2 separate regions of the Homo sapiens genome follow, and region 1 is linked to region 2. A link means that fine-mapping ties the variant in region 2 to the expression of a gene that starts in the linked region. Tissue or cell type: uterus. Region 2 holds a variant in brackets; the other region holds the start of a gene. All regions are shown on one strand. Distances are from middle to middle.

The links. PIP is the estimated chance that this variant, and not a neighbour inherited with it, causes the effect.
Region 1: it holds the start of ZNF473, and the variant in region 2 is fine-mapped to the expression of ZNF473 in uterus (GTEx, PIP 0.97).

The regions. Positions count from the first base shown.
Region 1 is chr19:50,021,623-50,029,726 of GRCh38, forward strand. It overlaps ZNF473 (zinc finger protein 473), which reads left to right and starts at 4,383. Exons shown (of 5, transcript NM_015428.4): 1 at 4,383-4,500. It overlaps VRK3 (VRK serine/threonine kinase 3), which reads right to left and starts at 3,750. Exons shown (of 15, transcript NM_016440.4): 1 at 3,645-3,750. RefSeq lists enhancers at 3,056-3,557, 3,607-3,686, 4,027-4,076, 4,487-4,536.
Region 2 is chr19:50,082,858-50,090,961 of GRCh38, forward strand. No RefSeq gene overlaps it. Among named protein-coding and RNA genes, the nearest start is that of SNAR-A4, 5.7 kb to the right of the region's middle. The variant T/C (reference allele first, on the strand shown) is at 3,883.

The sequences.
Region 1 (8,104 bases), 61 kb before region 2:
GGGAGCAGAAACAGGCCACCTCACTGTGCTCACTCTGAATTCCTGGCCCATAGGATCCATGGGCACAAGAAATGGTGGTTCTACACCAGTGAATTGTGGGACGATTTGTTCTCTAGACATAGTAACCGGGACAGGGAGTCCCTGCTGCACAGAGAGGTCAAGTCACTCACTTAAGACGGTTCTCATTTCATGACAGTTCAGTATGTGCAGACCACTGTGCTAAGTTCTCGGCAGGTATTATCTACAGAACCTTCCCAATCACCCTTTTCAAGGTAAGAATGATTTCCCCTTTGGGGAGATGAGAAGCAGAGGCTCAGAGAGCAAATGACTTGCCCAGGGCCACAAACCTCTTAAGCGGCGAGCCAGACACATGATTTTGTTTAATCTTTCCCTCCACTCTATGAGGTAGGGATGATTATCCCATCTTTGAAACCTACAAAATGATGCTCAAAGGGTGACAATTCTCCTTCCCCCAGACCTGACTCCACTCACCTAGAAAACAGTGGGGACGCAGCTGAAATCCAGAACCCAAAAGCCCATGTTCTTCACCTGGTGCCAATTTATACAACGAAAACGCAAAACCGGACTGGGTTCTTGGGGCAGCAGGTCAGAACATTCTTGTAGATTTAAATCTGGAAGCTGATGTTGGGTGTGGAACCACGGCAAGAGAGTCTTTTAACCATGTGCCACCCCCGGTTCTGACACCGTCACCAGCCTGGTCTAGGCCACCATCTCTCCCTTGTGCTACTGCAGCAGCCTCCTAACTAGACTTTCGGCTTCTACGCTTGTCCCTACAATCTATTTTCAACCCAGTAGCTTGACGGATCCACTTAAAATCTAAGTCAGACCCTGTCTGTGTCCCTGCCCTGGCCCATATGGTGGGTCGGACACGGTGGCTCACGCCTGTGATCCCAGCACTTTGGGAGGCCGAGGTGGGCGGATCACGTGAGGTTAGGAGTTCCAGACCAGCCTGGACAACATGGTGAAACCCCGTCTCTACTAAAAAAGTACAAAAAAAAAAATCAGCCGGGCGTGGTGGTGGGCACCCGTAATCCCAGCTACTTGGGAGGCTGAGGCGCAAGAGTCGCTTGAACCTGGGAGGCAGAGGTTGCAATGAGCCAAGATTGCACCGCTGCACTCCAGCCTGGGCAACAGAGCAAGACTCAGTCTCATAAATAAACAAATAAATAAATAAAATGTAAGTCAGACCCTGTCCCTCCTCTACTCAAAACCGTATGGTGGATTTCATTTTAGACAGAATAAATGCTGAAATTCCTACCATGGCCCAGGAGCCCCCTGTATGATCTGCCACTTCCCTGTTCCCTCTCTGACCTCTCCCACCTCTCCCCTTGCTCACGCTGAGTCAGCCACAACAGCTTCGGTGCTTTTCCCCAATCGTGACAAGAACGTTTCTTCCCCAAGACCTTTGCACCTGCTCTCCCATCTGCCTGGAACGCTGTCCCCCTAAGAGTGCACACAGTTAACTTCCTCATCACATTCTTTAGCTCTCTGTTCAAATGTCACCTTCTCAGAGACCTTCTTGGACACGATTTTACTGTGTTTTTTCTTTTCTTTTTTTTGAGATGGAGTTTGGCTCTTTTCGCCCAGGCTGGAGTGCAATGGCACGATCTCGGCTTACTGCAAACTCTGCCTCCCGAGTTCAAGTGATTCTCCTGCCTCAGCCTCCCATGTAGTTGGGATTACAGATGCGTGTCACCACGCCTGGCTAATTTTATATTTTTAGTAGAGATGGGGTTTCACCATGTTGGCCAGGCTGGTCTTAAACTCCTGACCTCAGGTGATCCCCCTCAGCCTCCCAAAGTCCTGGGATTACAGGCTCGAGCCACCGTGCCTGGCCCTGGACACCATTTTACTAATAGCATGTTTTATCCTCCTTACCTTGCTTTATTTTTCTTCACAGTGCTTGTCACTACCTGACATACTCTGACTTACTAGAATGTAAGCTTCATGATGGCGGGGACTTTTCCCTGCCTTGTTTGCCACAGTGTGCCCAGAGCCTCAAACAGGCCTGGCACAGAGCAAATGCTGGGTCTACGTCTGCTGAGTGAATAAATCATTGTCTCCTTTGCAAAAGAAAATGTGCCAAGAAGGTGGGTGGGGGGGGTCCCCAGCTGTGTCAGTACACATTCATCTCTCAGGCAAATCTAGACATCCAGCCAGAGACTCAAAGCTCAGGGCCGGAATTATCTAGCTGGATGGTCCCTAAAAAAGACGTGCCACTTAGAAGCAGATCAGTACAGGGGTTAAGAGGATAAACTTGGGAAATAATCTGCCTGGGTTTGGATCTTGCTTCTGCCATGTATTGCATGATGGACAGAGTTTTGCTATGTCACCCAGGTTGGAGAGCAGTGGCACGACCTCAGCTCACTTGCAACCTCCGCTTCCTGGGTTCAAGCGATTCTCCCTGCCTCAACCTCCCGAGTAGCTGGGATTACAGGCGCATGCCACCATGCCCGGCTAATTTTTTTATTTTTAGTAGAGATGGGGTTTCACCATGTTGGCCAGGCTGGTCTCGAACTCCTGAACCCAGGTGATCCGCCCACCTCGGTCTCCTAAAGTGCTGGGACTACAGGCGGGAGCCACCGTGCCCAGCCAAATTTTTTGGATTTTAGAACCTATTACATATTACAACACCGGCGAGATCCAGGGGCAACTCTCCATAAGTATATGATTTGCACAACAAAATCTTTAAAAATTCTAAATAGTCACACATCAGTTCAGAGTGGGTATTGCCAGCAAACAAGTTCAAAGCCAGGTGAGGTTGGCCTGCCAAGTAAGTTGCAAAACAGAGAAAAAGACCTTTCAGTTTTCAGAACGTTTTGGATTTTAAAGTTATAGATAAGGGACTGCAGACCTGTAAATATTCTTTAACATTTCTTTTTTAGTGTCTGGCATCCCCAACCACCCTGAGAATGTGAATTAGCTGGGCAGGATTTTTGTTTTAGACACTGCTATAATAACCTGGGCTTGAACAGTGCCTATTAGACTAGCACCGTTCAAACCCAGGTTATAGTAGTGTAATATCGGTTGCACGGAGCCTTCCATATAGTAAACGCTCAATAAAATTGGATGTGCTGAAGTCACCTATGCAATGGCCAGGTCAGGACTTGAAACCCTAAGACTCCAACCCTCAGGCCAGTCTTTATCTTAATTTATTTGACTTATTCAACAAATGTTTAGGGAACAGCTGCTATGCGTCAACTACTGTATAGTGTTCCTCCTAGAAAGTTCAGGAAACAGCACAGCAAAAAGGCTAAAAGTCAGACCCCACCTCAGCGCAGGTGGGGCGATTGCCTAGGCGACGACAGAGCCTCCCTTCGGCCGCACCTCCATAGAAACCACGGGATGACTTAGACGCCAAGTTTCACAGCGGAGGAGCTGTCGAACTTCCCACAAGTTCCGCCCATCTCCGCCTTAGCCATGCCCAACACGGAGCCCAAGGTGGCTTGGGAAGCTCAAGAGGAGGCCAGTGAACCCCGCGACCCGGAGCCGCTCTCATTCCGAACCCCGACAGCAGGGGCCTCCGCCTCCCACAAACGGTCGTGCTGACGTCACGGACGCCCCGGCCGAGCTGCGGCTAGGGGGTCGGGGGACGTCCCCTCGTTCGCCTCGCTTCCCCTCACCTCTGTACTTGGGGACTGGGGTGGGATTCTGGGCTTCTGCAGCCTGACCCTCGGATCCTCCGCAGTTACCCGGACTCACCTTCTCAGTTGCCCAGCGAAAACTTCCGCTGGGCGGAGAGCGCTGCGCGCGCATCCTGAATCTGAGGCGCCCGCGCAGGCGCCGCTGACTTCCTGACGGCCCCTGGGCTTCGCCTGCCTGGGAACTCCGTTTCCCAGATGCCTCCGCGGCAGGCCCGCCCTCTGATTCCAGACGGAATGGGGATTATTCCCTCATTGCTCATCCCCCTCCCCTCCGTTCTAGCCGCTTTGGAACGCCTTCTGGTTCTACTGCGCATGTGTCAGTGTCAGACCAATCGGAATGCACCGTGAGGTACCTCTCCACCAATCAGAGGTCACATTACCTAAACTTCTGCCTCAACTCCGCCCCTTACTTCCGCTTGTTTTCTCAGAAACCCGTCACAACGCGTTTCCATGGCAACCTACCGCTTGCTCTTCGGAAAAGGTTAACACTCCCTGACTTCTAGTAAAGGCAAGAAGCTAATTAGATGATTCTTTAACAAGGTAAAAATCTGGACTACAAACTGATGCCGCCTGGTCCTGATTCTCTTTCTACTCTACTCCCACAGTGCTAAGGCTGAAGAAGCAGGAGGAGATGGGAAGGCGAAAGAAGTCGCCCGCACAGCCCTCTGGGAAATAGAGTCCTGGCGCTGCCGCGGAGGATCCTGGGTGCAGCCGCTCAGAGAAGCTTCTCGCGCACAGGAAGTCGCTGCGAGGAGGCGCGTGTGCGGGGAGTTGAATCTCCCGCTCCCTTGAGGCTGGGGTTGCGTCTGTTGACGCGGCCGACTACAATCCCGAGGTACGGAGACGCTGGGGCTGAGGGACTTGCGGGCTCGGTCCTTCCTGAGAGGTGACGGAATGCAAGTGGGGGCGACTTCGGCAAAGGGTGCGTCGCCTTGGGCGGCGGTTGTCAGGGTGAAGGTGTGAACCGTCTTTCACAGTCTGTTATGAAAACCGCTCAAGGTCTGGGCACGGTAGATCACGCCTGTAATCCCAGCACTTTGGGAAGCCTTGGCGGGGGGGATCACTTACAGCCAGGAGTTCCTCGAACCCCCAGTCTCTACTAAAAATACAAAAATTAGTTGAGCGTGGTGGCGGGGGCCTGTAATCCCAGCTACTCAGGAGGCTGAGGCAGGAGAATCGCTTGAACCCAGGAGCTGGAGGTTGCAGTGAGCCGAGATCGCGCCATTGCACTCCAGCCTGGGTGACAGAGCGAGACTACATCTTAAAAAAAAAAAAAAAAAAAGAAAGGAAGAAAACCACCTTGGGAGGCTGAGGTGGGCGGATCGCTTGAGCCCAGGATTTCGAGGCTAGCCTGGGCCAGATGGTGAAGCCCTGTCTCCACAAAAGAAGAAAAAAATAGAAAAATTAGCCGGGCGTGGTGGTGCGCCCCTGTATTCCTAGCTAATTGGGAGGCCGAGGTGGGAGGATTGCTTGAACCCAGGAGGCAGAGGTTGCAGTGAGCTGAGAAAGAAAAGAAAAGAAAAGAAAACTGCTAAAGGGGTTTCCAGGCCTCCCTGATGGCCCTGAGAGGAGTGGTTCTGTTTTATTTTGGTTTTGGTTGGGGAAGGAGGGGAATGAGTTACCTGAAGTTGGCAAATTTAGGCAGAATCTTGCTGGACGATGGATGGGAGTTCTTCGGGAAGTTGAAGTACTTAACATTTACAGTATTTGAGTGCTTTCTGTGTGCCAGGCGCCCTGCTGGAGTTGCATTTCCTCTTCTGATCCCCGCAGCAGCACTGAGACATAAGTGCAGGTCCCCTTGGCACCAAGGCAATCTCGGGAATCAGAATTTTTCAGATTTTAGAAAGCTAATAGGGTGCATATTTTATAATTAGGCAGCACCCCCCCACACCCCGAGGAATCTGGGCCAGTTTTTGGTCATAAAATGTTTCTGTGGGGCAAGGTGTGAATATTCACACTTATGAGAACATTAAGACCCTACATGGCCTGTGGCAATCCAGGTGAAGTTTTGCGGTCAGTTTATAAATCAAGTTCTGGTTTTTGGAGCATTTAAAGGACCATAGATCTGTTGTATTTGTTCCATTTGGTACATGTGGAAACTAAGGCTTAGAGAAGGTAAATGGTCTGGAAGGAAGGGCAAGACTCTTGGGCCCAAGGTCTCTCAGCCTGATAATTGTTTGGCTTAAGTCACTCTGGGCTGGATGACCTTGGGCTCCACCTCTGGGCCCTCGTTTCTTTCCTCCCAGAGCTGAGAGTATATGAGATGTGGGCAGAATGTGATTTGGTAACTGCAGACAGGGATCTCAAGCTCAGCTGTCTGTGAGGGCCAGGCAGATGACATACAGGAAAGAAGAGAACTGGTCCAGGTGAGGCTGCGGGGCCTTGGGGAGCACTTGCCTCATCTGAAGGGGAGAATTGTGTTTTTTTTTTGATGACAGAGTCTCGCTCTGTCACCCAGGCTGGAGTTCGGTCTCACTGGAACCTCCACCTCCCCGGTTGAAGCGATTCTCCTGCCTCAGCCTCCCAAGCAGCTGGAATTACAGGCGTGCACCACCATGCCTGGCTAATTTCTGTATTTTTGGTAGATACGGGGGTTTCACCATGTTGATCAGGCTGGTCTTGGACTCCAAACTTCAGGTGATCCGCCTGCCTTGGCCTCCCAAAGTGCTGGGATGGCAGGCATGAGCCACTGCACCCAGCCGCTTTTTAAACTTAAATTTAATTTTTTTGGCCGGGTGTGGTGGCTCATGCCTGTAATCCCAGCACTTTGGAAGGCCGAGGTGGGTGGATCACGAGGTCAGGAGATCGAGACCATCCTGGCTAACACGGTGAAACTCCGTCTCTACTAAAAATACAAAAAATTCTCCGGGCGTGGTGGCAGGCGCTTGTAGTCCCAGCTACTCAGGAGGCTGAGGCAGGAGAATGGCATGAGCCCGGGAGGCAGAGCTTGCAGCGAGCTGAGATCGCGCCACTGCACTCCAGCCTGGGCGACAGAACGAGACTCCGTCTCAAAAAAAAAAAAAAAAACAAATTTAATTTTTTTTTGGAGGCAGGATCTTTCTCTGTCATTCAGGCTGGAGTACAGTGACACAATCATAGCTCACTGCAGCCTTGAACTCCTGGGCTCAAGTGATCCTCCTACCTCAGCCTCCCAAGCGATCCTCCTACCTCAGTCTCCCAAGTAGTTGGGACTACAGGCACGTGCCACCACAACTTGCTCATTTTTAATTTTTTTTTTTTAGAAACAAGGTCTTGTTACGTTGCCCAGGCTGGTCTCGAACACCTTTCAGCCTCCCAAAGTGCTGGGATTATAAGCATCCCCCACTTGCCTAGCACTGGTGGGGGAGCTTTAAATGGGCACCAGTGAACTAACTTCGTGGGATGTAGACCCAATGTTGCCAAATCCTAGGATGTTTCAGAAGTTGGAAACATAATTTTTAGGTGAAATTTCCCAATTTTCAAGTTTGAGACTAGTGAGCCATGCTTGAATTTTCTTTCAAAACATTCTGTCTGCCAACAAACATTATGGGCCAAATATCTGTCAACTGAGTTATACTCGTAGGTTGAGGCTTAACCTCTGACATGTAGAAAAACTCATTGTTCAGTAGAATTAGCATTTATTGTAGGTCTACCATATTCCCATATTTGTAGTCTCAAAAATCTGGACAACTCAGAACAACAAATTTTTTTTCATAAATTTAGTGTCCGTGCCTTACCTGAACTACTACAGGGTATTTTTTAAATATAACTTTAAATTATTCTACCTAGAATGAACGATGATACTTTTCTCTAGGGTAAAGTGTTCAATTATGAAATGCAGCCTGATCCACACTGCGCTGGGACTTTGTTTTGTTTTGTTTTTGTTTTTGTTTTTGAGACGGAGTCTCGCTCTGTCGCCCAGGCTGGAGTGCATGGCGCCATCTCGGCTCACTGCAAGCTCCACCTCCCGGGTTCACACCATTCTCTCGCCTCAGCCTCCTGAGTAACTGGGACTACAGGCGCCCACCACCATGCCTGGCTAATTTTGTTATTGTATTTTTAGTAGAGACGGGGTTTCACCGCGTTAGCCAGGATGGTCTGGATCTCCTGACCTCGTGATCCGCCTGCCTTGGCCTCCCAAAGTGCTGGGATTACAGGCATGAGCCACTGCGGCCAGCCCTGCACTGGGATTTTAATGAAATATGCCATGTATATGCCATATCACCTTTTGAAAATAAAAGTTGAATTTCAAAGCACATCTGGCCTTGGAGTTTGAAGAATTTGTGGACCTGTGTCATTGTTAAGTGATCCGTGCTGCTTTGTGATATGAAATGCTTTCAGCACTCCGCAGATATGTGCTACTTGGTCCACGCAGTGGATACAAATGGGTAAAAATGTCTGTGGTACAGTTTTGCGTATTATGGGTCATGAAAATAACTAGGTGGGCAGTGACTATGATT
Region 2 (8,104 bases):
TCTACTAAAAATACAAAAAATTAGCTGGGCGCAGTGGCGGGTGCCTGTAGTCCCAGCTACTCAGGAGGCTGAGGCAGGAGAATGGCGTGAACCCAGAAGGCGGAGCTTGCAGTGAGCCAAGATCACGCCACTGCACTCCAGCCTGGGAGACAGAGCGAGACTCCGTCTCAAAAAAAAAATAAGAAAGAAATTTAACACTGTTTCAAATATTTATTGGGCATATGAACATGCTACTTTGTGAAATGTCAATTCACGCCATTCGTCCATTTTTCGACTGGTTTTTCTGCCTTTTTTAAAAAACAGGTTAGTAGGAGTTATTTCTTTATTTTTCTTATGAGTCTTTTGTTAGAATACATATTCTTCTCCCACTCTCTGGCTTGTCTTTTCATTCTCTTAATGGTATTTTTTGATGAGGATCAGTTTCTATTTTAATATAGTCCAATTTATCAACATTTTCCTTTATAGTTAAGGCTCCTTTGTTTCTGGTTTAAGAAATATTTTCTGGCCAGGCACACTGGCTCATGCCTGTAATCTCAGCACTTTGGGAGGCTGAGGAGGGAGGATCATATGAGCCTAGGAGTTCGAGACCAGCCTGGGCAACATAGCGAGACCCTATCTCTATTAACACAAACAAGTAAATAAAAGAAATATTTTCTTACCCTGAAGGTTCTGAAGATACTCTATGATATTTTCTTCTAGAAGTTTTATTGTTTAAGCTTTAACATTTAGATCTACAACACATCTGGAATCAATTTTTGTGTATGGTGTGAGGTAGAGGTCATATGGTTATCAACTGGCTCAGCCCTATTTATCCAAAAAGATCATCTTTTGCTTCTCACTGCACTGAAATGTTGCTTTTGTCATAAACCAAGTTACCGTATATGTGTGAACTTTTCCTGATTTTTCCGTCTTGTTCTTTTGGTCTATTTGTTTTTCCTTGCAAGAGTATGCTGCTTTAATTATTATTATAATAAGCCTTGCTCTCTGGAAAGTACTCTGGCTTTTTTTGTTTTTGACAAAGGGAATTTGTTGACTTATAGAACCGAGCTATATAACTAGCTTCAGGCATAACTGGATCCAGGCACTAAAATGAATCTTTAGCAATACCGCTCATTTCCCATCTGGGCTTTACTTTTCTGTATCTTGACTTCCCTCTCAGGCAGAATCTCTTCCCTCACGGTGACAAACAGGGCCCACAGCAGCTCGAAGCTTCCATACTATCATTTTAACAACCTAGCTTATCATTTTAACAACCTAGCAGAAAAGGGGTACTGCCTTCCTGAATGGTGATACCAAAGTCTCAAGGTTAGCTCTCATTGGCCCAACTTGGGTCACATGTCCATTTCTATAGTAACCATGTGTCTTAGTCCATGTTGTCTTGCTATAAAGGAAAACCTGACGCTGGGTAATTTTTATTTTATTTTATTATTTTTTTTTTGAGACAGGATCTTGCTCTGTCACCTAGGCTGGAGTGCAGTGGCGCAATCTTGGCTCACTACAATGTCCGCCTCCCAGGTACAAGTGATTCTCCTGCCTCCAGTGTAGCTGGTATGACAGGTGCCCGCCACCACACCTGGCTAATTTTTTGTATTTTTAGTAGAGACAGGGTTTCACCATGTTAGCCAGGCTGGTCTCGAACTCCTGACCTAAAGTGATCCACGAGGCTGGGTAATTTATAAAGAGAAAAAGGTGTATTTGGCTTATGATTCTGCTGGCTGGAAGATTGGGCATACAGAGAAAGTCTAGAGCTACTTCCACTCTTGGTGGAAGGAGAAAGAAAGCAGGGATCATGTGACAATAGAGGAAGCAAGAGAGGCAAGTGTCAGCCTCTCTTTAACAACCAACTCTAATGGGAACTAATGGAGGAAGAACTCACTCACCCACACTCCCAGGGAGGGCATTAATCTATTTGTGAGGGGTCCACCCCTGTGACCCAAACACCTCTCATTAGGACCCCATCTCCAACATTGGGGATCCAATTTCAAGAACGAAATTTAGAAGGCAGCCTGGCCAACACGGGGAAACCCCGTCTCTCCTAAAAATACAAAAATTAGCCGGGCGTGGCATGTGCCTATAATCCCAGCTACTCAGGAGGCGGAGGCAGAAGGGTCACTTGAACCCAGGAGGTGGAGGTTGCACTGAGCCAAGATTGTGCAACTGCACTCCAGCCTGGGTGACAAAGCAAAACTCTGTCTCAAAAAAAAAAAAAAAAAATTGGATGGGACATACATCCAAACTACTGCACATCATAACCAAGGTCATGAAGTACTCAGGTTGGCCAGGTCTGACTCTTGTTCTCACTCTGAGATCCCTGGCAAGATCCAGTCAAAAAATGTATATTTTGCATGGAGAGGAGTGATAGGAAAATCAGATGTTTAAGAGAATAAAAAGAGAAGCTATAGATTGTGAGAAAATCTTTTCAAAACACCTATCAGACAAAAAGCTGGTATCCAGGCCAGGTGTGGTGGCTCACATCTGTAATCCCAGCATTTTGAGAGGCTGAGGTGGGCGGATCACCTGAGGTCAGGAGTTTGAGAGCAGCCTGGCCAACGTGGCAAAACCCTGTCTCTACTAAAAATACAAAAATTAGCCTGGCATGGTGGTGGGTGCCTGTAATCCCAGCTACTCGGGAGGCTGAAGCAAGAGAATCACTTGAACCTGGGAGGCGGAGGTGGCAGTGAGCTAAGATTGCGCCATTGCACTCCAGCCTGGGCAACAGAGCAAGACCTTGTCTGAAAAAAAAGAAAAGAAAGAAAGAAAAAGAAAAAGAGAAAAGAAAGCTGGTATACAAAGAACTAAAACTTAACAATAAGAAAACAAACAACCCGCTCCCTCTCCATCTCCCTCTCCCTCTCCCTCTCCCTCTCCCATCTCCCCACGGTCTCCCTCTCCCTCTCTTTCCACAGTCTCCCTCTCCCTCTCTTTCCACGGTCTCCCTCTGATGCCGAGCCGAAGCTGGACTGTACTGCTGCCATCTCGGCTCACGCAACCTCCCTGCCTGATTCTCCTGCCTCAGCCTGCCAAGTGCCTGCCATTGCAGGCACACGCCGCCACGCCTGACTGGTTTTCGTATTTTTTTGGTGGAGACGGGATTTCGCTGTGTTGGCCAGGCCGGTCTCCAGCTCCTAACCGCGAGTGATCCGCCAGCCTCGGCCTCCCGAGGTGCCGGGATTGCAGACGGAGTCTGGTTCACTCAGTGCTCAATGGCGCCCAGGCTGGAGTGCAGTGGCGTGATCTCGGCTCGCTACAACCTCCATCTCCCAGCCGCCTGCCTTGGCTTCCCAAAGTGCCAAGATTGCAGCCTCTGCCCGGCCACCACCCCGTCGGGGAAGTGAGGAGCATCTCTGCCTGGCCGCCCATCGTCTGGGACGTGAGGAGCCCCTCTGCCTGGCTGCCCAGTCTGGAAAGTGAGGAGCGCCTCTTCCCGGCTGCCATCCCATCTAGGAAGTGAGGAGCACCTCTTCCCGGCCGCCATCCCATCTAGGAAGTGAGGAGCGTCTCTGCCTGGCCGCCCACCGTCTGAGATGTGGGGAGCGCCTCTGCCCCGCCGCCCCGTCTGGTATGTGAGGAGCGCCTCTACCCGGCCGCGACCCCGTCTGGGAGGTGAGGAGCGTCTCTGCCCGGCCGCCCCGTCTGAGAAGTGAGGAGACCCTCCGCCTGGCAACCGCCCCGTCTGAGAAGTGAGGAGCCCCTCCGCCCGGTAGCCACCCCGTCTGGGAAGTGAGGAGAGTCTCCGCCCGGCAGCCACCCCATCCGGGAGGGAGGTGGGGGTCAGCCCCCGCCAGGCCAGCAGCCCCGTCCGGGAGGGAGGTGGGGGGGTCAGCCCCCCTCCCGGCCAGCCGCCCCGTCTGGGAGGTGAGGGGCACCTCTGCCCGACCGCCC[T/C]TACTGGGAAGTGAGGAGCCCCTCTGCCCGGCCGCCCCTACTGGGAAGTGAGGAGCCCCTCTGCCCGGCCACCACCCCGTCTGGGAGTTGTACCCAACAGCTCATTGAGAACAGGCCATGATGACAATGGCGGTTTTGTGGAATAGAAAGGGGGGAAAAGTGGGGAAAAGATTGAGAAATCGGATGGTTGCCGTGTCTGTGTAGAAAGAAGTAGACATGGGAGACTTTTCATTTTGTTCTGTACTAAGAAAAATTCTTCTGCCTTGGGATCCTGTTGATCTGTGACCTTACCCCCAACCCTGTGCTCCCTGAAACATGTGCTGTGTCCACTCAGGGTTAAATGGATTAAGGGCAGTGCAAGATGTGCTTTGTTAAACAGATGCTTGAAGGCAGCATGCTCGTTAAGAGTCATCACCACTCCCTAATCTCAAGTACCCAGGGACACAAACACTGCGGAAGGCCGCAGGGTCCTCTGCCTAAGAAAACCAGAGACCTTTGTGCACTTGTTTATCTGCTGACCTTCCCTCCACTATTGTCCTATGACCCTGCCAAATCCCCCTCTGCGAGAAACACCCAAGAATGATCAATTAAAAAAAAAAAGAAAAAAGAAAACAAACAACCCAATTTAAAAATAGGCAACAGATCTGAACAGACACTTCAACAAAGAAGATATGCAGATGGCAAATAAGTAAATAAAAAGGTGTGGTGGGGTGGCTCCTGCCTGTAATCCCAACACTTTGGGAGGCTGGGGCAGGAGGATCATTTGAGGCCAAGAGTTTCAGACCAACCTAGGCAACACATTGAGACGCCATCTCTATAAAAAATAAAAAGAAAAAGGTCAGATGTTGTGGCTCACACCTGCAATCCCAGCACTTTGGGAGGCCACAGCTGGTAATTCCCTTGAGCTCAGGAGGTCAAGACCAGCCCAGGCAACGTGGTGAAACCCCATCTCTACGAAAAATACAAAAAATTAGCCAGATGTGGTGGTGCACACCTGTGGTCTCAGCTACTTGGAAGGGTGAGGTCGGAGGATCACTTGAGTCTAGGAGGCAGAGGTTGCAGTCAGCAGAGATCGTGCCACTGCATTCCAGCCTGGATGACAGAGCGAGACCCTGTTTCTAAATAAATAAATAAATAAAATAATAAAAATAGAAATAAAAAAATAGCCAGGTGTGACAGCACACAACTGTAGTCCCAGCTACTGGGGAGGCCGAGAAGGAGGATCTAAGAGTTGGAGGCGGCAGTGAGCTATGATTGCACTGCTGTACTCCAGCCTGGGCAACAGAGACCCTGTTTCTTAAAATAAATAAATAAACAAACAAACAAATAAATAAAAGGTACTTGGGCCGGGCGTGGTGGCTCACACCTGTAATCCCAGCACTTTGGGAGGCCAAGGTGGGCAGATCACCTGAGGTCAGGCATTCGAGACCAGCCTGATCAACATGGAGAAACCCCATGTCTACTAAAAATACAAAATTAGCCAGGCGTGGTGGTGCATGCCTGTAATCCCAGCTACTTGGGAGGCTGAGACAGGAGAATCACTTGAACCTGGGAGGCAGATGTTGCAGTGAGCCGAGATCATGCCATTGCACTTCAGCCTCGGCGACAGAGCAAGACTCTGTCTCCAAAAAAAAAGGGGGCTCAACATCAAATGTCATTAGGAAATTGCAAATTAAAGCAATGATGACATACGACAACCACCTATTAGAATGGTGAAAATCCAAAACATGAATAACACCAAGTGCTGATGAGGATGAGGAACGTCAGGAACTCTTATTCATCTCTGGCAGTAATGCAAAATGGTGCAGCCACTTTAGAAGACAATTTGGCACTTCCTTACAAAACTAAACACTCTTACCATATATTGCAGCACTCATGTTCCTTGGTATTTACTCAAATGAGCTCAAAACTTATATCCCCACAAAAACCTGAAGACAAATATTCATAGCGGCTCTGTACATAATTGCCAAAACTTGGAAGCAACCAAGATGTCCTTCAGTAGATGAACAAACTGCAGTACATGCATACAATGGAATATTACTCAGTTATAATAAGCCATGAAAAGATATGGAGGAACCTAAAATGCATATTGTTAAGTGAAAGAAGCCAATACGAAATCGCTACATATGGTATGATTCCAACTATACCACATTCTGGAAAAGGAAACACTATAGAGACAGTTAAAAAAAATCATTGGTTTTTAGGGGTTTGGGAGGAGGGAAGGATGAATCAGCAGAGCCCAGAGGAGTTTTAGGACAGTGAAACTACTCTGCATAATACTATAATGGTGGACACATGTCATTATAAATTTGTTCAAACCCATAGACAATAAAACACTAAGAGAGAAACTGAATGTAAACTATGGACTTTCCTCTCAATTTTGCTGTGATTTTAAAACTGAAAAAAAAAAAAAAAAAAAAAAAAAAAGGCCTGGCGCGGTGGCTCATGCCTGTAATTCCAGCACTTTGGGAGGCCAAGGTGGGCAGATCATGAGGTCAGGAGATCGAGACCATCTTGGATAACACGGTGAAACCCCGTCTCTACTAAAAATACAAACAATTAGCCGGGCGTGATTGCGGGCACCTGTAGTCCCAGCTACTCAGGAGGCTGAGGCAGGAGAATGGTGTGAACCCAGGAGGTGGAGCTTGCGGTGAGCTGAGATCACGCCACTGCACTCCAGCCTGGGTGACACAGGAAGACTCCATCTCAAAAAAAAAAAAAAAAAAACAACACCAAAAAAATGCTTTATTAAAAAAAAAAATAGAATGTACAAGGTATCACACAAGGAGTGGACCTTAATGTAAACTGCAGATTTCAGCTAATAATAATGTATCAATATTGGCTTATTAATTGTAACAAACGTAGCACAGTAACACAAGATGTTAACAGGGAAGATGAGGGGCAATGAAGGGATGAAAGGGGATGTAGAAACTCTCGGTACTTTTCATTCGATTTTTTCCTGTAAACCTAAGACTGCTCCAAAAAAAATTATTAATGAAGAAGAAAATCAGAGATAACAGATGTCACTCAGGCAAAAATATCAGGTGTCCATTATAAGGATCCAAGTTGCCCCTAGGTATTCACTCTAATAACAGTTTGCAACTTGGGGTATGCAGTATAGAAGGGATAAAGAGGCTGGCGCAGTGGTTCACGCCTGTAAGCCCAGCAGTCTGGAAAGCGGAGGCGGGCGGATCACCTGAGGTCAGGAGTTGAAGACCAGCCTGGCCAAAATGGGGAAACCTCGTCTCTATTAAAAATACACAAAATTGCCAGACATGGTGGCACGCGCCTGTAATCCCAGCTACTGGGTCGCTGAGGCAAAGGAATTGCTTGAACCTGGGAGGCGGGGGTTGCAGTGAGCCAAAATTGCGCCACTGCACTCCAGCCTGGGCAACAGAGTAAGACTCCACCTCAAAATAAAAATAAATAAATAAATAAATAATTAAATTTAAAAAAAGGCCAGGTAGCGGTGGCTCACACCTGTAATCCCACCACTTTGGGAGGCTGAGGCGGGCAGATCACAAGGTCAGGAGATAGAGACCATCCTAACACAGTGAAACCCTTTCTCTACTAAAAATACAAAGAATTAGCTAGGCGTGGTGGCACGTGCCTGTAGTCCCAGCTACTCGGGAGGCTGAGGCAGATGAATCACTTGAACCCGGAAGGCAGAGGTTGCAGTCAGCCAAGATCGCACCACTGCCCTTGAGCCTCAGCGACGGAGCAAGACTCCATCTCAAAAAGAAGCCAAAAATACAAAAATTAGCCAAGTGTGGTAGTGTGCGCCTGTAACCTCAGGGTGAGAGAGGAGACTCTCTTCAACCCAGAAGGCAGAGGTCGAGATCATAAGACTGCACTCCACCCTAGGCAACAGAGCAAGACTCCATCTCAAAAGATATATTGCAGTAATTTAAAAACAATTCTATTGGAAACGCAATTTCTTCCTGTCGAGACCTCCCTTTATGACGGAACAATGAAAAAACAATTTTTTTCAATTTTGTCCAGGTTAGCTTCAAACACATAGCATCGCCAGCTTGTGCGCCAGGACAACCTGACGGAGCCACCGAAGCTGGTGGAAAAGTGCTCTCAATTTTTCCATTTGACCTTCTGGGGAGCGATGTAGCCAATCACGAGAGGCTCACCCCTGACATCACCCAGTCCCCAGGGACAGAGAGGGCCCTGCGTTCCATGGCGCCCCCTGGAGGGAGGAAGGGGAACTGTATCT